Homo sapiens: one gene and its partners. The protein of the gene in region 1 purifies or fractionates together with the protein of each later gene. This does not show direct contact. Each region holds a gene or a part of one and is shown in the gene's direction. Other genes may lie near its edges.

What was found.
Region 2: the proteins of CAMK1G (region 1) and ZBTB44 purify together in Homo sapiens (affinity purification with mass spectrometry; 2 studies listed by BioGRID and IntAct, with this or other methods). This does not show direct contact.
Region 3: the proteins of CAMK1G (region 1) and RFWD3 purify together in Homo sapiens (affinity purification with mass spectrometry; 2 studies listed by BioGRID and IntAct, with this or other methods). This does not show direct contact.

The regions. Positions count from the first base shown.
Region 1 is NC_000001.11:209,607,694-209,614,445, forward strand, and holds the end of CAMK1G (calcium/calmodulin-dependent protein kinase type 1G), read left to right. Parts: intron 1-164; coding exon 165-240; intron 241-1,286; coding exon 1,287-1,399; intron 1,400-2,157; coding exon 2,158-2,236; intron 2,237-3,771; coding exon 3,772-3,859; intron 3,860-4,098; coding exon 4,099-4,523; intron 4,524-5,091; coding exon 5,092-5,182; 3' UTR 5,183-5,219; intron 5,220-5,346; 3' UTR 5,347-6,246; downstream 6,247-6,752. UniProt on the Homo sapiens protein: Calcium/calmodulin-dependent protein kinase belonging to a proposed calcium-triggered signaling cascade. In vitro phosphorylates transcription factor CREB1.
Region 2 is NC_000011.10:130,234,892-130,241,917, reverse strand, and holds part of ZBTB44 (zinc finger and BTB domain-containing protein 44), read left to right. Parts: intron 1-2,021; coding exon 2,022-2,106; intron 2,107-3,310; coding exon 3,311-3,474; intron 3,475-4,824; coding exon 4,825-5,125; intron 5,126-5,701; exon of another isoform or gene 5,702-5,808; intron 5,809-7,026. UniProt on the Homo sapiens protein: May be involved in transcriptional regulation.
Region 3 is NC_000016.10:74,663,852-74,671,062, reverse strand, and holds the start of RFWD3 (E3 ubiquitin-protein ligase RFWD3), read left to right. Parts: upstream 1-4,185; 5' UTR 4,186-4,277; intron 4,278-5,782; exon of another isoform or gene 5,783-5,830; intron 5,831-6,317; exon of another isoform or gene 6,318-6,439; intron 6,440-6,562; exon of another isoform or gene 6,563-7,211. UniProt on the Homo sapiens protein: E3 ubiquitin-protein ligase required for the repair of DNA interstrand cross-links (ICL) in response to DNA damage. Plays a key role in RPA-mediated DNA damage signaling and repair.

The DNA.
Region 1 (6,752 bases):
CCAGAAGAGACACAGCCCCTACCCTTAGGGAGTTTTCAGTCTCCTAGAAACCCCACCATCCCACAGTCTTCCCCAGACCTCTTCTCTAAGCCTGGCCTTCAGCTCCCACCCCAAAGCCCTCTCCTCTTGCCACCAGCCCTGACTCTGCCCTTGGTCTGCTGCAGCTCCAGAAGTGCTGGCCCAGAAACCCTACAGCAAGGCTGTGGATTGCTGGTCCATCGGCGTCATCACCTACATATTGTGAGTAGACGCTGGCCTGGGTTCAGCTGATGAGAAGTCTCGGAGCCTGCTTACCCCTTCTCGTTCCCTCCCCTGTCTCAGCTCCTCCTCCAAGCACGTGCATGTGCACAAACAGACACAGGCACAGGGGCACACGGGTACACACACACACACACACACACACATACATGTACACACAGCTTAAAAGCTTCCTCTCTCTTCACCTCCACCAAGTTTTAAAACAGAGCTCAGCGTGAATCCACTGCACAGCCACCTGGCACTCCCTCCTCTTGCACCCCTGCCCCTTTTACTGCCTATAAATGTGTTGCATCCCACTCAGTGGAATGAACAGTGAAAAAGAGAGAGGCCAAGCCAGGCTTGGAAGCCAGGTGGACCCTCTGTTCCTACATCTCAGCTTTCCCAAGGCAAAACTGTGGCCTGGATAAAGCTGGTCAGGGCCTTTCCTTTTCGCTCCTCTCCACACATTCCCAAGCTCTCCCTTTCCTAACCTGCCCATCACCTCTTCCCCACCATCCCTCCTCACCTATAGCAAACTTTGCTCTTAGGAAAATAACCTGGTTTCAATTATCTCCTCCATTTATGTTGAATAAGTACTCTCATTTATTTACCCAACCAATATTCACTGCCTATCTACTCTGCATCTATCCCTGTGCTAGGTTCTAAAGAATCCCGCAGTGAACAACACAGCCTAAATAAATCCTTCATCAAGCTTACATTCAAGTAGACAGTCTACCAACTTTCTTAAACATATTTTATATAGCATTCATAAGTCAGGGAAAGTATAAGGAGAGGTGGCAAGGGTTGGAGGGCATAATGTACACAGGGACCTTCTAGGGATGACTGTGCCAAGGCTTGGCACTTGCATAAACACTTTACGGGACCTGTACCATTCTGGAATTTGAGGCAGATCTGCGTCCTGGTCACACCACTGTTCTGGGACCTTCAGTGCCCACCTGTGTATACAGTGGGAGCTTGGGGGAGCAGAGAGGCTGGCTCAGGGAGGACAGGTTTGTTCAGTAGTATGCCTCCTTCCTGTCCTGCTGCAGGCTCTGTGGATACCCCCCATTCTATGAAGAAACGGAGTCTAAGCTTTTCGAGAAGATCAAGGAGGGCTACTATGAGTTTGAGTCTCCATTCTGGGATGACATTTCTGAGTCAGGTAAGGCCAGTAGGCATGAAGGAGAGATAACAGGCTCAAGGTAGAGGCTGCCAAGAGAAATGAGCTTAACAAAGGATGACAGTCCCGGCTCTTCAAAGTCCCTGGGGATCTTACAGAACAGGCTGCCAAGGAAAGTGGAGAAATCTTCGTCTGCTTCAAAGACCCGATAAATTATTTACATCTAAGAGCTATGCTTTTGTTTTTCTGGAGGCAGAACCACAGTATGCCTGAAAAGGAGATGGGGGGGCAGTTTAGAAGATGGGCCAGGAGGGCAGAGCCAGGTGGTGAGGGGAGAGTTCCAGACAAGAGCAGCAAAACTAAGGGGTTAGATATCAAGAAAGAGCATGCAATGTCTATGTGTGAGAGAAGATGATCATTACGTGATTGTTGGACCTGTTAAGTGGAAATCAGAGCTGGAACAATCCAGCACTCACATGCGTGCCCATGTGCCAGCGCTGGCCCCTGTTTCAGTGCAAACACATGCACATGTGATGTGCAGGCACATGGGGGCCTTGTGACTAGTGACGCTTCTGCAGTGCTGTGTGGGTGAGGCGGCTTGGAGCTTCCCTTCTTTGGTGGTTTATGGTGGGTTGTTGTTAGGTGGTTTGGATTTTTTTTCCTCTTCTAAGACTCTTAAAATTGCCTCTTTGGAAGATCAGCTAAAGATGCATTCACTGCCACCCACCAGCCCGGAAGTGAATTTCCATCAGTCATGAAATCTGGTCCTTAGTCGTCGTGTCTTTGATTACTCCCCTTAGCCAAGGACTTTATTTGCCACTTGCTTGAGAAGGATCCGAACGAGCGGTACACCTGTGAGAAGGCCTTGAGTCATCCCTGGTGAGTGAGACATGGAGTGGACTCTAGACCCCAGCCCTGTAGTTCCCAAAACCATGCTGACTCATTCATATTGCATTTCCCTGGAATCTGCTTGTCCTGATCCATTTAATGATGTGACAAGCAAGGACCATGCCATTGTTCATCAGGCCCAGGTAGAGATTCAAACATTATACAGTGGAGCAGGTTCTAATGCAAGGGTAGCAGCTGGGTTGTCTGGTCAAGTGCAGGAGGCAGGTGCAGCCGAGCGCTGTCATTCAGCACTGGGATAGGGTGCAATGTTCAGTACTAGTTATTCAAGAAGTGCCAGGAATGGGCAACTCTGTCCTGTCCTTTAGAGCTTTGTTTTACTCAGGGATCAATAACTGTTCCAGGTGAAGTGATTTAAGAACAACTGCAAAGCAACCGATTGGCAAAATAGGAAAAAGAAAATCTTAAAATATTTTTTCATGTTACTTCCCAACTCAATTTACAATAGCTCCCCACTTCATACCCCAGCAAGCCTGGATTCCTTTGTCTTTCCAGTTTCCCTAATATGGCCTGACCCTTTATCTCCAGCCTCTTTTCCCAGGATTGCCAGCATACCTCCTCTGTCCAGATAGGCCTGGGAGCTATATCTGTCTCACCCCACATACCAAGCTCTGTCTTAACTACACCTTGGATCAGATCATTCCCACTACCTACAATGTCCTGCCTCTTGCCCTGTATGTAGCATCTTTCAGGATCCAGATCAGTCTCTGCCCTTCCCTGAAGCCCCTGACCCCTGCAGCCCAACCCAATCTCCCCAGTTCTCTTTATTAATCACACGGCTTACCATGTATTACTGCAGTCCATAGCATGAACAACACCCGACATCTAGACTGTAGGCTCCTAGGGGTCAGGGCCCATGTCTCTTACTTCTCGAGGTCTATTAGTAGTTGGCACAGTACTATGCACACAGCAAGTGTCTGAGGAACACTTAGAGACCAGTGAATAAGAGGCTAAGGGGATAGGAAAGGGGCAGCCTGTACCAGACGGCCTTACTGAGGAAGGCTTCCAGGAGGAGGTGGGTTCTAGGCAAGGTTTTGAGCTAAAGGATGGTGACTACCCCAGTGCCCTGTGATGCTGGGTCCAATAAACTTTTTCTATAAAGCATCAGATAGTAAATATTTTAGGCTTTCCTGGCCATACTGTCTTTATGGCAACTACTCAACCCTGCTGTCACAGTGCAAAAGGAGCCACAGACAATACCTGAATTAATGGGCACCACTGTGTCCCCATAAAACCTTATTTACAAAAACAGGCAATAGGTCGATTTGGCCTATAGGCTATAGCTTGTTGACCTTGCTCTAAAAGTTTTTGATTTTGCCAAAGCTAAAGCCGACTCTTACTTGCCCAGGGGCACAGAGGAGACCTGCTTGCAGCCCTTTCCTGCTGTGGGCTGTCTTTCCTCTGCACACTCTACCCAGCTCTCACCTAGACCTGCAGGCACCCTGCCCACTCCCTGGATGAGTGTAAATAGCCACCCAGTAGCCAGGTGTCCCCTCTTACATCCACAGGATTGACGGAAACACAGCCCTCCACCGGGACATCTACCCATCAGTCAGCCTCCAGATCCAGAAGAACTTTGCTAAGAGCAAGTGGAGGGTAAGCTGTCCTCTCCAGGGGGTGGGAAAGCTGTTCTGGGCCCCTGGAGGCTGGGCTGGCAGGGGCTGACATAAGGGCTTTCCTTGGGATGTCCCAGAAGGCATTGGAGCTCCGTGTACCCTCTCTGAAATGAGAAGTGGGCACCCAGGTTTCAAGAGGCCACAAGGCAAAGGGAAAGTTTAAGCTCCAAGGCCCTCTGAGGTTGCAGAAGGCCAGAGGCTGCTCTTGTGTCTCCTTAGCAAGCCTTCAACGCAGCAGCTGTGGTGCACCACATGAGGAAGCTACACATGAACCTGCACAGCCCGGGCGTCCGCCCAGAGGTGGAGAACAGGCCGCCTGAAACTCAAGCCTCAGAAACCTCTAGACCCAGCTCCCCTGAGATCACCATCACCGAGGCACCTGTCCTGGACCACAGTGTAGCACTCCCTGCCCTGACCCAATTACCCTGCCAGCATGGCCGCCGGCCCACTGCCCCTGGTGGCAGGTCCCTCAACTGCCTGGTCAATGGCTCCCTCCACATCAGCAGCAGCCTGGTGCCCATGCATCAGGGGTCCCTGGCCGCCGGGCCCTGTGGCTGCTGCTCCAGCTGCCTGAACATTGGGAGCAAAGGAAAGTCCTCCTACTGCTCTGAGCCCACACTCCTCAAAAAGGCCAACAAAAAACAGTACGTATTTTTAGCCAAAGATGGAGCCCCAGCTTGGGTCTGAAAGAAATCGGTCAACAGGACTGAAAGAAATGGACACAAAGGCCTCTCCCACTCATAGGCAGCTATATAGGGAGGGATGAGTTCTGGATGAGGGGGCAAGGAAAATGCTTCCAGCCCTGTCCCCATCACTTACTAGTTGTGAGGCCATTGACGAGTCAATGTCTCTGCTTCTATTTTGCTCATCTGTAAACTGGGTTGAAGTCTATTTACCCAATTAGCCTGCCTCACAGAGGTACTATAAAAGGTTAGTGAAGCAACAGAGATGATAAAAGCCCACAGAAAACTGGGTATTTGCAAGTGGTGAGCATCAGATTCCCCGAGTTTCCAGGGCCTCTGTGCTTTGCAGAAGGAAGTGTAGGGGGGCTTGGTTATCTTTATCTTTTCTGCAGGTTCTTGAACTTTCTGAACCTCATGAGGGGAGAGCTGAGTGGATGCCACAGGCACAGAGAACTACCACCTCTGCCCTGCCCCATCGACTCTTCTTCCCTCAAATACTTCAAAGGTTGTTGCTTCATTTCCTTTCTAGGAACTTCAAGTCGGAGGTCATGGTACCAGTTAAAGCCAGTGGCAGCTCCCACTGCCGGGCAGGGCAGACTGGAGTCTGTCTCATTATGTGATTCCTGGAGCCTGTGCCTATGTCACTGCAATTTTCAGGTTAGGAGGGTCACAGTGTGAGGCTTGGGGAGAGTTTCTGTCCCAGAGGAGAGCCCCATGCCAGAGTGTGAGTGATGGGGTCTGAGGTGGCAACCCCCTCCTCACTCTGAGCCCCTTTCTCTTGCAGGAGACATATTCAACTCCTCTGCTCTTCCAAACCTGGTGTCTATCCGGCAGAGGGAGGAAGGCAGAGCAAGTGGAGCAGGGCTTAGCAGGAGCAGTTTCTGGCCAGAAGCACCAGCCTGCTGCCAGCGGGGCAGCCCCTCATAGGAGGCCCAGGAGGGAGCCCCAAGGCGTAGAAGCCTTGTTGAAGCTGTGAGCAGGAGAAGCGGTGCCCACCAGCTTCCAGGTCTCCCTGACCTGCCTGCTCTATGCCCCACACCCTACGTGCCGTGGCTCTGTGCAGTGTACGTAGATAGCTCTCGCCTGGGTCTGTGCTGTTTGTCGTGAAAAGCTTAATGGGCTGGCCAGGCTGTGTCACCTTCTCCAAGCAAAGCCATATGGAGCATCTACCCAGACTCCCACTCTGCACACACTCACTCCCACCTCTCAAGCCTCCAACCTCTTGGCCAGATTGGGCTCATTAATGTCGTTGCCTGCCCATCTGCATGAATGACAGGCAGCTCCCCATGGTGGTCTGCCTGTGAGCTCTTCAAGTTCTAATCCTTAACTCCAGGATTAGCTCCCAAGTGCGCTGAGACCCAGCCAGCACACTTCTGGCCCTTCTCCCTGCCTCAATCTAAAAGCAGTGCCACACCCTCCAAAGTGGAATAGAAAGAAGTTCATGAGTAAGGGCTGCAAGGAATTCTTATCCTGGCCACATGTCCTCCGTGCACACACCCAATGGAGTTAACCTTGGAAGTTGACTATTTTAATGTCTGCCAGGAGTTCTAATCCTGCCTCTGTTCCCTTTTCTCTCCTTGAAAGTCCAGCACACCATTCTTGTCCTTCCCCAGTTTCCTCGCCCTCCACCCCTCCAGCTTCATGCTCAGTGTTGTGCTTAATAAAATGGACATATTTTTCTCTATGAGGCTTCATTTGGTTCTTTCAAAGTCAGGAGCAGTTCAGGGACTTCTGAGCATGTCTGGAGTAGAGAGTGCATGGATGGCTGGGGTCAGCAAGGAACCAGCAGTTGTAGCTGATGTGCATACAGATGTGCATATAGCTGAGTATACAGTGCTCCAGGCACTGGACATGAGTTACATCATTAACTCATTACTTCTCACAACAACCCCTTGGGACAGGTTCTGTTGGAACCGAGGCAGTCTGGCTTTAGTGGCCATTCTCTTAATGGCTCTATTAGATGAGCATGAGTTCGAGCCCCAGCTCTGCCCCGACCTGCCATATCTGTGACCTTGGGGAAGTTACTTAGTCTTTCGTGCCTTGGTTTCCTCACTTATCCAATGGGAATAGCAGTGCCACCTGCATCATGAAATGATGCAGATGATGTGCCCAGCCTCGTGGCCAATAAATAATCAAAATGATTAACAATGATCAAGAAGTTAATGTAGATAAAATGTCTAGCACAGTGCC
Region 2 (7,026 bases), on another chromosome or scaffold:
GTATTTATACATGACATACAACACAGGAGGCACTGCAGAGCAGAGAAGGCAGACCTTTCATGACATTCGGTCACAAAGTCAACTCCAATGGGTTAAAGAAAAAACATAAGGCACAAAACATGATACTTTTCATAAGATAATTTCAGACAGGGAAAGATTTTTTAAAAACAAGACCAAAAAGCCATAACAATGAGAAAAGGATTAATTAAATTAAAATGTTAAACTTTGTTCATCAGAAGAAGCCATTAGAAAGGGTGAAAAAAAAAGCCATGGGATGGGGAAAGATATTTGTAGTATGTATCACTGACCAAGGGCTTATATACAAATTGTGAAAAGAACTCTTATGCTAAAAAGGCAGACAACTCTGGCATTTCACAAAAGAGGGAGGAAGGGAGATTCCGTAAATATGTGACACTAGATTCACCCCAGTAGTTATAAGGGAAATGCAATTCAAACCACCATGAAATATTGTAAGACATACACCAGGTTGGTAATAATTTTAAAAACCAGTGGTAATAACTTAAAAATCCAGCAATACCAAATGTTGGTAAGGAGGTAAGGATATGGAGCAGCACAACTCTGATATACTAGCAGTGATGTGAATTTAGTACAGTCACTCTGGAAAGAGTTTAGTATTTTCTAATAAAGTTGAAGATAAATGTGTTCAGTGACCTAGCAATTCCATTCCTACATATGTACCACCTCCATTCCTAAGTCTTTACCATGGAGAAAAGCATGCTTATGTGCATTAAGGATATTCACAGCAGCATTGTTCTTAATAGCCAAAAAACTGTCCATCAAGAGTAAAATGGATAATGATGAATATTATAAACAATGAAAATAAACTTTGGTTACACGTAAAAACGATGAGTCCACAATGTTGGAGGAAAGAAGCAAGACAAAAGAATACATATAGTATGACCCGGTTTATATAAAACAGCCAGACAACACTAAAAAGTATTGTTTATGGCAAGCCTTGGCAAACTTTCCTTTAAAGGCAAAATGATAACTGTTTTAGACATAACTGCCACATGGTCTCTGTCACAACCAAAAGCTACTAAACTCTGCCACTGTAGGCAGAAGCAGCCCTAGTCCAGCCAAAGTTGTGTTCCAGCAAGAACGAATACCTACCTTATGGATACTTGTATTCAAGATAAAATTACTTTTAAAAGTGAGAGAATGGGAGGAGGAAAATGATAACCATAAGAAGCTTTTGGAGAAGGGAGGGGTTTATGATCAGGGAAGGATGAATGGGGACTTCCAGGATGCTGGCCGTGCTTTCGTGTGGCTTGTGTGTGGAGGTTGCCTGGGTGTTCACTTTATCTGTTAAATTCTGTATAAAAGTTGTGCAACAAGTTGTATGTCTTCAATAAGTTTTAAAAAATAAGAATTTCAGTGTTTCCTTAAATGGTTAATTACTCAGTTTTATGTGGATTTTTGTTCGCTTTTGAATTGCCCTGCTTGCTTTCTGAAATGTGTCAAAGAAATATTTCTAAAAGAACTTAAATAGTAATATAAGACTATTATCTTACATGTGGTTTTTCTTTAAAATCACAAACATTTAAAAATATAGAACACGGCTGGGTGCGGTGGCTCACGCCTGTAATCCCAGCACTTTGGGAGGCCGAGGCAGGTGGATCACAAGGTCAGGATATCGAGACCATCCTGGCTAACACAGTGAAACCCTGTCTCTACTAAAATACAAAAAATGAGCCGGGCGTGGTGTCGGGCGCCCGTAGTCCCAGCTACTCGGGAGGCTGAGGCAGGAGAATGGCGTAAACCCAGGAGGCAGAGCTTGCAGTGAGCCGAGATCGCGCCACCGCACTCCAGCCTGGGCGACAGAGCGAGACTCAGTCTCAAAAAAAAAAAAAAAAAATGTAGAACACTACTTTGGATTAATAATTCAGGATATGAACACTAGATAATATATGTCAGAGGCTTAGATATAATATAGCTTTCAGTTACAATCTTGGCTTATTCACACCAAAGGATTACAGTGGTCCTCTTTCTCTTATTCACAGGCTCAGTAGATGAAGGCGTTTCTGAGGGCTTGCCTACACTTCAAAGCACGTCTAGCACTAATGCTCCTCCGGATGATGATGATCGGTCAGTACTAACATAGCATTTCGTTACCTCTTAAGGGTTGTGTTTACAACTCCAAATTCAAGCATTTCATCTCAAGAGTTGTAGAAGTTTATTACAACCTCACTTCAGTATACTTTTCAAAGTAATGAAGTAGCATCATCACATTATAAATTAGAGTACCTATACAAGGCTTTTTTTTTTCCCCAGCATTTCCAAAACTACCTAGTCCCATTGCTTTAAATCGTATCTGTACCAAGTGTTGGCAAACTATGAACCACAGGCCAATTCCAGCCTACCACCTTTATTTGTAAATCAAGTATTACTGGAACACAACCAGGCTCATTTGCTGACATATTGTTTGTGGATGGCAGAGTTGAGTGGTTGAAACAGACTGTATGGTGTGCAAAGTCAGAATGTGTGCTGTACGGACTGCTGTGAAAAACATCTGCCAAAGTCTGATCTGTATACCCATAACTCCCTCCCTGCTTGATATTTCCACATAAATGTATAAAGGGCATTTCACATTTAACAAGGCCAAGACAGAACTCTTGATTTCTAACTCCTTGTCTGAATCCTGCTTCTCCAGCCTTTCTCCCATTTCAGTAAGCATCATCATTATCCCCTAATTTCTCAAGCAAAATCTCTGAGGATTGTTCTTAATCTTTTTTCCTTACCACTCTTCATCTCCCTCGTAGTTAATCCTTAAGTCCTGTCAACTCTGCCTATAAAATATATCCCTGTCTACTTTTCTAATCTGTACTGTAGCCACCCTACTCTAAGTCACCACCATCTTTTGCCTTGACTACTGCAATAACCTTCAAAGTAGCCTCTGATTGCATTCTTCCCCTAATCCATTTTCCATGTAGCAGCCAAAATCATCTTTTCTTTTTTAATTAAGTCAGATTATGTCACTGTTTTAAGCTATAGATTCTTAACATTCTTTATTCATACCTAAAATCTATAGGCCTTGCTATGCCTTCTAAAGCCCTACACGATATGACTTCTGCCTAACTCCGTCTCAAAAAATAAAAAAAAAAAACAAAAGGCATTCTGGACATTAACATTGTTTTTCATATTGTTAAAGTAAAACTTGAAGTCTAACAGTTAAACTGTTTCAAAAAGTCTTTAAGTGTTTTATCTTTTTTCATTTAAAATTGACCTATAGCAGTGTTTATTCAGTTTAAAAATCAGAGCCTGGTTGCCTTCTTTGGTCTGTTTTTTTTAGATTGGAAAATGTTCAGTATCCCTACCAACTCTACATTGCTCCTTCCACCAGCAGTACAGAGCGACCAAGTCCAAATGGTCCCGACAGACCTTTTCAGTGTCCAACCTGCGGGGTGCGATTCACCCGTATTCAGAACCTAAAGCAGCACATGCTCATCCACTCAGGTAATGTCACCTTCCCTGTTGGTGCGTAAGTGAACGCTCTAAAACATTTTATTTTGCAGTCCCAGTTAAAATAGAAAACAGGGGCTTCTGAGTTTTAAAAAAAACTCTGGGAAGTCAAATGAAAACAGATTAGCTAAGGTTTATTGCTGAAATGATGCAGTGTCAGAAAGCTGCTTGCCACGGGTGTTGAGTATTCTGATTAAAAGAACATAAGGTGATATGGAGTGAGTACTTTGTAAATAAAAAGACATATTAGGTGTGCACATAGAGGTGAGATAGAGAATCACAAACACAGATGGTAAAGCAAATAGGGTTAAAAGGGTCTGTATGGGTGTTCTTTGTGCTGTTCTTCTTATAATGTCTCTTTAAGTTTGAAATTTTTCCCAAATAAAAGTGTGTTTAAAAATGTAATATTTTCTTGCTAATTTACTTTCAATTCTACAGTCCTAAATCTCTGTGTGCCCTGATGAGTCAGCTTTGTAGTTTGTATTTTTTTAAACATAACAGAGATTTTGGATAAATGTATAGAGGGGATTTGAAATTTTAGTTCAGTAATCACATGAAGGCAACAGGATTCTTGTGGGTAAAACACTGACCTCTGACGAGTAAGAGATCTTTGCTGCTGTTTTCAGCTGCGTGAGTTACTATCTCACTTTCCCCTTCTGTAGATAGGTCTTACAGTCCCTGTCCTAGCACCAATTCTCTGTGACTTTGTTCAATCCGTAGACTGTGTTTTGAAAGGTTTTAAAATTTTTTCCCCAAAACACTGTGATAATGAATTTGAGGAGACTATTAATACACTTTATAACTCATTTATTTCTATCAATATTACATCATATTACCCAAAAAAACCCATTATATCAAATGATGGTTCTGTCATGCTCATTACATTCAGAGATGTTAAAATTGTTCTTTCTTCTCGTTTCTCTGTGAGATAGGGAACAGAGAGTAGGTACTGATGATTTTCATATCCGTTCAATGTAAACCTCTAATGAAATGAAATAATATGTGCTGTTAGTGGGGATTTGGGTTCTGTCTACATACTGTAGTTAAATTGTGTTTTGAAGTTAGTAAAATAGATGATCTAGAAAAGCATTCAAAAATCAGCTTCAGTAGACGTTACCTAGTTTGCCTCCCCTACTGCCTTTTTTTCTTTTCCTTTTTAAGCACTTGTGACTTTTCACATATTCTGCACATTTTCTGAGATACTCAATTAGAATATGTTTTTGCTGGTAATTCTTGCCTTTTCAGATGATCTGTTGCTACAGAAATATAGTTCAGAAATTTGTAGGGTTTATGACTTTTCAGTTTATTTTTGTTTTTAGATATTTTGTTTTGCTTTATTTACAGGAATTAAACCATTTCAGTGTGACCGCTGTGGGAAAAAGTTCACCAGGGCTTACTCGCTAAAGATGCATCGCCTAAAGCATGAAGGTAAACGCTGTTTCCGGTGCCAGATATGTAGTGCCACTTTCACTTCCTTCGGGGAATATAAACACCACATGAGGGTTTCCCGGCACATTATCCGCAAGCCTCGGATTTACGAGTGCAAAACATGTGGCGCCATGTTCACCAACTCTGGAAATTTAATCGTGCACCTGAGGAGTCTGAACCATGAAGCATCAGAGCTAGCAAACTACTTCCAGAGCAGGTGAGGTGCACAACGAAAACCCAACCAGGAAAACTGCTTTCTAAACTCTCTTTTCCTGCTTTTAGGGCAGCCTTCTGTGTTTTTACATCAGGTTGCCAGCTAGTCAGTCACATTTGTTACGGATTCCCACTGTTCATACTCTAATCTCCTGATCTGATAAAATTTTGCTGAGTCTTCTACGTATATAAAATTATAAACATTTTATAGTTGGTATTAAAAATATTTTCCTGCAGAAGTAGACTACTTGTCCTCTTGAGATATTTTTTAAATAATACAAGGTTTAAGTAATTCTGTAATGGACCTTAAATAGATCTTACTGGAAATTTTACCATGTCAGATGATGCTTAGTGATACTGGATTACTCCAGACTCTAGATGTTAATAAAATTCTTTACCACTTCTCTCTATTTAAAAATATTCTATATAAAGGAATAGCCATTGGCCAGTAAGAAAAATTTCAAAGGCAACTATAGTGGGTGTGATGGTTTAGATCATGAAGTCATTGCTATTTTCATTCAGTTTAGAGCTCTATTCTTGTAATATTAATTTATAATAGAATTACCTTTCTGATTTATAGGGCATCCCAGGAAATCAGCTTCTAGATCTAGCTCTGCCACTAACTGCTGTTGATTAAACCTGTCACTTTACACATGAAAAAGCTTGAAACTTAGAGAAAGATAAAATGTAAGCTTTAAACGATGGTTTCTAAGGCCTTCTCTAGATATAAAACTGTTGTTTTAAATTGTTTATAAGAATTGTACTTCTGTAGGAATCCTTAGTTTCTCATAAAATGAAATTTTTACAAATCTTTCTTTTTTTTTTTTTTGAGATGGAGTCTCACTGTCACCCAGGCTGGAATGCAGTGGCACGATTTCGGCTTACTGCAACCTCAGCCTCCTGAGTAGCTGGGATTACAGGTGCCCACCACTACACCCAGCTAATATTTGTATTTTTAGTAGAGATGGGGTTTCACCATGTTGGCCAGTCTGATCTCGAACCCCTGACCTCAAGTGATCCGCCTGCTTCAGCCTCCCAAAGTGCTGTGGGATTACAGGCGTGAGCCACCATGCCCAGCCCAAATCTTTACATTTTAAATCACCCTTATTTTTAAAACCTTTTTTTTTTTTAATTGAATAGATAGGGTCTTGCAGTGTTGCCCAGGCTGAAGTGCAGTGGCTGTTCATAGACACAATCATAGTGCACTGCAGCCTCGAACTCCTGAGGTCAAGCAGTTCTCCTGCTGGGGCTACAAGTGTGGGCACCACCCCTGACTTAAAACCTTATTTGTAAACAAATTCCAAATTATTCCTGCGTAGATTTTGTTTTTCCCTTCAAACCAGACATTCATTTTGTTTAATGCAGTCATCTCTAATTCTGAATGTGTGGTTGCCATATCACTAAACCTTAGGTTATACATATCATATTAAACATAGTTTGTTCAGGACTAAAATAGTGTTCCTGTTAACTACTCATGTTATCTTTATCGTCCCTGTACAGAGCCCTGTATTCTCCATTCTTCTTCTCTAACACCTGAATGAAGACTTTTTAGAAAATATAACATAGGGCATTCTAAATTACTTTGCAGATGAACAGATTTTAATTTTTTATTAATACTGAACAATGAAATTATAAAATAACCTTATCAAGTCTAAGTACATATATTATTGACAATTATGGTATAATGAAGTTCTTAGTTCAGTAATAAAGATTTAAATAAAGCCTCTAAGATAAGACTTATTTCACATACTTAGTTTCAATTACCAAAAGATGCTTATAAGTAGGAAATTTAGGAAATACAGAAAAGTATGAAGAAGAAATTTAAAATATTTTCTATTTCATCACTTAAGGAAAGTAGCCACTGTTTTTAGTATATTTTACTGTCCATGTTGCCTGTGGGGACCA
Region 3 (7,211 bases), on another chromosome or scaffold:
CCATGTTTGTGGTGCTTTCATTCTAGATTTCTTTTTTTAAGACGGAGTCTTGCTCTGTCACGCCCAGGCTGGAGTGCAGTGGTGCAATCTTGGCTCACTGGAACCTCTGCCTCCTGGGTTCAAGCGATTCTCCTGCCTCAGCCTCCTAAGTAGTTGGGATTACAGGTGCTCACCATCACACCCGGCTAACTTTTTGTATTTTTTAGTAGAGATGGGGGTTTCACCATGTTGGTCAGGCTGGTCTCGAACTCCTGACCTCAGGTGATCCACCCGCCTCGGCCTCCTGAAGTGCTGGGATTACAGGTGTGAGCCACCGCGCCCGGCCTAGAGTTTCACTCTTGTTGGCCAGGCTGGAGTGCAGTGGCGCAATCTCGGCTCACTGCAACCTCCGCCTTGCAGGTTCAAGCGATTCTCCTGTCTCAGCCTCCCAAGTGTCTGGGATTACAGGTGTGTGCCACCACACCTGGCTAATTTTTGTATTTTTAGTAGAGACAGCATTTCACCATGTTGGTCAGGCTGGTCTCGAACTCCTGACCTCAAGTGATCTGCCCACCTCGGCCTCCCAAAGTGCTGGGGTTACAGACATGAGCCACCACACCTGGTCTCATTTTAGATCTTATACCTTTGTTCATGGTGTGTGCTTTGCCTAGGATACACTAATCCCTGTCTTTAAAGTTACATTTTTTTCAGAACTCATTCTAAATCATTCAACAGCAAATGTGCTGTCCATTGTTTCAATCACTGAGAAGACAGCAATAAAAATACATTTGGGTCTTGTATTCTAGTAATCATCTCTGGTGAAGAAAATTATGGCTGATTTCTATTACTATTATTATTATTATTATGAGACAGGGTTTCACTGTGTTGCCTAGGCTAGTCTTGAACTTCTGGGCGCAAGTGATACTCCCACCTTGGCCTCCCAAAGTGCTGGGATTACAGGCATAAGCCACCACACTCGGCCTTATGTTTTTATCTTTTACTTATCCTTGATTTTTTTAAAACCTAGAACATGGTTTTTTTCTATAAATAAAAAATGCAGAAGAATATAAACTTAATATGATTATTTTGTAGAACTTACTGGCAGGTATTACTATTTTACTATTTTCCTTCCTTCCTTTTTTCTTTTTTCTTTTTTTTCAGAGGCAGGGTCTGCTGGTCTGGAACTCCTGACCTCAAGGGATCCGCCCACCTTGTCCTCCCAAAGTGCTGGGATTACAGGCATGAGCCACCATGCCCAGCCACTGTTTTCATCTTTAAAATCATTTGTTCTATTTACTGTAGGAGTTACAGTGAAAATTCTCCCTGGTAGATGAATTATTCATACTCTGGCAGACCCACAATTATTATAGGTGAATTTACTATAAGCCTGATAAAGCTTAATCTTCAGGGCCTTTTACTTGCACAGGATGCCTTCCAAGGCCCTGTACCTGATTTTTCCCAACACTTATGTATGAAAATTTCCAGATACACAGAAAAGTCAGTACAATTGTACTCTGAACAACCATATACCTACCACCTAAATTCTACAACTAACAATTTATTATATTTGTTTTATCACATACCTATTTATCTGCTTGTGCCTCTTTCTAGCCATTAATTCATCCTGATTTTTTATGCACTTCATTCCTAAACACTTCAGCATTTATGCCATTAACTGGAGTTTATCTCTCTATGAGCTTTTTTTTGGCGGGGGGGTGGGAAGGTAAGTTTTTGCTGTGAAAAATTTGTGTGAAATGCACAAATCTTAAAGATAGCATTTGATGAGTTTTGACAAATGCATACATATGAGTAATCCAAACTCTATCAAGATCATGAACATTATGGCCGGGCGCGGTGGCTCACGCCTATAATCCCAGCACTTTGGGAGGCCAAGGCGGGTGGATCACCTGAGGTCAGGAGTTCAGGACCAGCCTGGCCAACATAGTGAAACCCCACCGCTACTAAAAATACAAAAATTAGGTGGGCGTAGTGGCACGTGCCTGTGATCCCAGCTACTCAGGAGGCTGAGGCAGGAGAATCACTTGAACCCAGGAGGTGGAGGTTGCAGTGAGCCGAAATCATGCCATTGCACTCCAGCCTGGGCAACAGAGCGAGACCCTGTCTAAAAAAAAAAAAGTTCTAGAGCTAAAAAAGATTATTCATATGGCACAAAGTGATCTCCTACTAGTCCAAAGTTCAAAAACATTTTAATAAAGTCCATTCATATATCTTTTGTTTGCTTTCCAATGGAATACTACGTTTATTGAGGCAAAATCACATTATTTTTAGTTCTTGGAGTCAAAAAGCGTACACGAATGTTCTTCAACACAGTTACTAAAAATACAAGACCAAGTTGAATGTGCCAAAGAGATACCATTCAGTTGGGTTTTCTAGAGTCATCAGGAAGAATATTAGAGAAGGGATTTACATGGTTGGTTTCCATAGCTTGATAGACCAAACACACACAAAAAAACTGCCACAACAACAAACAGCAAAATTTTTATCCATACAGGAATGGAGCGTCCCTTTTTTTTGTATTTTCTCACTTGACGTCTGCCAAGGGAACATACTTAGGAACATATGTAGATGAAAACGACTCCTCCATCCTCAAATCACTGAGTTCTAATGGCCGGCCTGCAGCTCCTTTGATTGTTCTGCGGCAACTAGCACTAATTCTTGTTGGTGTAGTTGCTTCATAGGGGAACATTTCCTTAAGAATATCCCTTTCTACTCTTCTTTCCTGTGTTTTTTTTCTCCCACTTCAGCTCTTGTCAATGGTTTCTTTGGTGTTCTTCTGGGTATGTCTGAGAATTCAGTGACTGGCAGAATAGGAAATGCATGCTTGAAATTTCCAGTCACCCTATTGACAATTAAGGATTCGTTGTTTGAAGCAATTATAGTTTCAGCTATGGGAGTACTCGCTGAAATTACTGCTCCATCTATACGAAAATATTCTGAAGCGTGCACCCTTTTGCTTGGAGTTCTTCTTGACCCTCTTGTAGATTCCCTAGTTAATAATGCCTGCAGAGGTCCGCCTTTTGAAGATCCACTTGTCCATTCAGTCCCAGTTATTCCAGCTTGAGAATAGCTCTCCTTGTGCTCAACTCTTCTTTGCTTGAGGGTTACTGGAGTCTTTACTCCCCTGTTTAGCGGTTCTCTCTTCTCAAACTTGAGCCCAATTTAGAGTCTTCTTCATTTTCACCATATCTGTCAGAATCATTACTTCCATTCTGCCTTGTATTTTCTGCTGAAGAAGAAATTGTTGCTGAAGGAGACGATCTTGATTCTGTTCCTTGCTCCCTCAGTTTCAAAAGCTATTTCTCATACAGCTTCCTGGTTGTTCCCACAATAGGACCACAATTCACTCCGTATTTCACAAGCTGATCCAAAGGATCTTCATTAGTGAGTTCTGTTACATCTAGATCGTCTTTATCATCTTGTCTGGGTTTATCAGTTTTCTTTGTGGCTTTCCTGCCGGCGGCGGGCTCGGAGCCGAGACGGCTGTGGGCTCGCGCTCCTCGTACGTAGCTGGAGAATTCCGGGGGCCCCTTTCTTTTGGCGCTGGCGGCGAGCGGCGGCCCTAACAAGTGATTTGAGACTGTTCAGTAGCTCAGATCCCTTGCAGCGGTTTGAGATTGAAGAGATTATGTAGGCAAAGTATTTTGCGTGAGCTCTTCAACCCCATGAGAGGATACATATGAACTGGACTGTCCTACGCCTCTTTACAGGCTCCGAAATTCAAAATATTGAAATATTTTGAAATTATTCGATTAGCTGCTATCCTTTGGATACAGATAACTCCTTCACTAAAGCGTTAGGGATAAGCAGCAGGAGTCAGTTTTAATATCATCATCCCCATTCCAAAATGGACCGAGAAATCATATAACTTTCTCCCGCCAGAAAGTTCAAATAAAACGCGCTAAAAAAAAAAAAAAAAACCAAACAAAAAAAAAACAAAAAAACCTCCCATTTTTTCCGGGGCGGGTGCAAGGTGACGGACGTAGATTCCTGCCAATTGTAGGAGGCTTCCTCAAGCGCGGTCCCGCCTCGTCAGGACGAACTACCAGCCAATGAGAGCACCGCTGCTTCAGCTATCGGGGGACCCATTGAAGAAGAAGAGTGGGTATTGGCCACAGCGTAGGGCTTCTGTCCAATAGGAGCATGCCTGCCGGCGGCTCTGGCGGGAGCTTGAGCGGCTCCGGAAGTGGCAGTTGGCGTAGGTGCATTCGGAGTGCGGCCGAGGTAACTACCGAGTCTTCGGCGGGCTCGCGAGCCCGGCCGCGGCCTGCTGGTTTCAGGTGAGGAGGGGTGTTGCTTCTCCTCAGGCCTTGGGCCTCTAGCTTCGGGATAAACCTCCCCACGCCTGATTCCTGGATTGGGATTCAGGAGACACCCCACGAGGTGGGCTGCACGCGGGCTTGGAACCCGGCGGCCTGAGGGGATTCGGGCCCTCGGGGCGGCGCCAGTGGTCGGGGCTAAGGAGCCCGAACCCCCGCGCGTATCTGGGTTGCTGGGCGTGGGGGCTGGGCAGGCGAGAGCTCGGGGCGATCACTGAAGGAGCCGAGTTCGCTGCTGCGGGGCCTGCCCTGGCCGGGGTGGGAGGTCGCCCGGCCCTTCCCCCGAGAGCCTAGCCTCGGGCTCCTCAGCGGCGTTGCCTGCGCCCGCTCTGAGCGCCGATTACTTCATCACTTTAAAGTTGATGGAAGAACTTCATTTTTAATTTCATCACGGAAACTGTGGAGTAAAGACTTGTATTATCCCTGTTTTACAGGAGAACAAGTTGAGCCGAGTTTAGGAAACCCGCCCAAAGTTTCCCCATGTAGTAAAAGAACAGGGATTTAATATCTATGTATCTAATCAATCTATCTATCTATCTATCTATCTATCTATCTATCTATCTAATCTGTCTATCTAATCTATCTATGTCTTTCTTTCCCCATGTAGTAAAAGAACAGGGATTTAATTTCCTTCTTTCCCTCTCTCCCTTCCCCTCCCGTCTCCCTCTCCCTCCTCTTCCCCCTCCGCCTCTCCCTCTCCCTCTCTCTTCCTCCCTTTTTCCTGTTATAAAGAGAAAAAGGTGTTATAAAGAGAAAAGCGGTGGCTCAGGCCTGTAATCCCAGCACTTTGGGAGGCCGAGGCAGTCGGATCACCTGAGGCCAGGAGTTCGAGACCAGCCTGACCAACATGGAGAAACCCCATTTCCCAGCTACTCGGGAGGCTGAGGCAGGAGAATCGCTTGAACCCGGGAGGCCGAGGTTGCAGTGAGCTGAGATCACGCCATTGCACTCCAGCCTGGGCAACAAGAGTGAAACTCCATCTCAAAAAAAGAAAGAAAGAAAGAAAGAAAAGTCTCCCTGTTGCACCCAGGCTGGAAGAGCTCACTGCAGTCTCGAACTCCCGGGCCCCAGGGATCCTCCCACCTCGGCTTCCCGCAATAGCTGGGACCACAGGTGCGCGCCACCACGCCCGGCTCATTGTTTTATTTTTCTTTTTTCTTTCTTTTTTTGAGATAGAGTCTCGCTTTGTTGCCCCTGCTGGAGTGCAGTGGTGCGATCTCGGCTCACTGCAACCTCTGCCTCCCGGGTTCAAGCGATTCTCCTGCCTCAGCCTCCCAAGTAGCTGGGATTACAGGCATGCGCCACCACACCCGGGTAGTTTTTGTATTTTTAGTGGAGACGGGGTTTCACCATATTGGCCATTCTGGGACTCCGACCTCAAGTGGTCTGCCCTCGGCTTCCCAAAGTGCTGGGATTACAGGTGTGAGCCACCGCGCCTGACCTGTTCTATTTTTCTTTTTTGGTAGAGATGGGAATTTCACTGTGTTGCCCAAGCTGGTCTGGAACACCAGAGCGTAAGTGATCCATCCGCCTGGGCATTTCAGTGTCCAGGGATCACAGGCGTGACCCTCTGCACCGGCCAGAGCAAAGATTTGAACACTTCCCCCGCCCACCTCTTCTCAACCTTTAATTGAGGGGCTTTCGTCCTGCCTGTTGTGGCCATTGATTGAAACCTGAGTAACAAAGATGACAAGTCTGAGGTTGACATTTTAAGCACCGCTCACAGCACACATAAAAAACAGCGTTTGTGTGACATCCTCAAGGTTTGGGGTGCCCAGCCCATGGTCTCTCGTTCTAGGCACCTCCGACTGGCCTACAGTGGTTAGGAAGCTTCAGCTCCAGAACTGCACCGTTCCATAGAACTTTGTGCGACGAGAAAAGTGTTCTGTATTTCTGCTGTCCAGTATGGGAGTCACCCGCCCTATGTGTGTTTCTAGCAGTTGAAATGTGACCTGCACGACAAAGGAACTTATTTTATTTCTTTCTTTTTTCTTTTTTTAGACGGAGTCTTACTCTCTCTCCCGGTCTGGAGTGCAGTGGCGTGATCTCGGCTCAATGTAACCTCCACTCTCCGGGTTCAAGGGGTTCTCCTGCCTCAGCCTCCCAAGTAGCTAGGACCACAGGTGCACACCATCACGGCTGGCTAATTTTTTTGTATTTTTTGTAGAGACGGGGTTTTGCCGTGTTGCCCAGGCTGGTCTCCAACTCCTGGTCTCCAGCTACCTGCCTCAGTCTCCCAAAGTGCTGGGATTATAGGCGTGGGCCACAGCTCCTGGCCGAATTTGATTTTTATTTAATTTAAATAACCATATGGGAGTAGACAGTGCGGCCCCCTAGATTCTGCTCTTTTTAGTCCATTTCTCCCCTTTGTCTTCCTGAAGGCTGAGTTGCTTAATGTCTCTTGAGTACATCTAGAAGTAGCTTGGGCCTTATGTTCTGACACACAATTCTTGGGAGACTGTCGTTGTACCCTAGAAACATTAAAAGCTTTTAGTTAGGCAGCTGCAGTAGCTCACTCCTGTAATCCCAGCACTTTGGGAGGCTGAGGCAGAAGGGTTGCTTGAGCCGAGGAGTTGAAGACCAGCCTAGGCAACGTGGGAAACCCCATCTATACAAAAAATGTTTAAAACTTGAAGTATCTCACATTGTTCAGTTTGCAGACTTTCTTTCCCACTTATTTTCAGTACTGTGCCACTCTCCATCCTGAGTGTAAGCCTGTGTGGTTCAAACCTCCAGTTTTCTCGTGCATAGGGGGAGAAGGGCTTTGTTCTGTGTTTTGTTTTAGCTGGCTGGTGTTTGAGTAGGAGTCAAGCTAACTGCTTTACTGGCTTTTAACCAGCCCTTCTCTTTTAGCGCCATCTTTCAATATTGCCTTTTGTGGTACCTGGTTTTTAC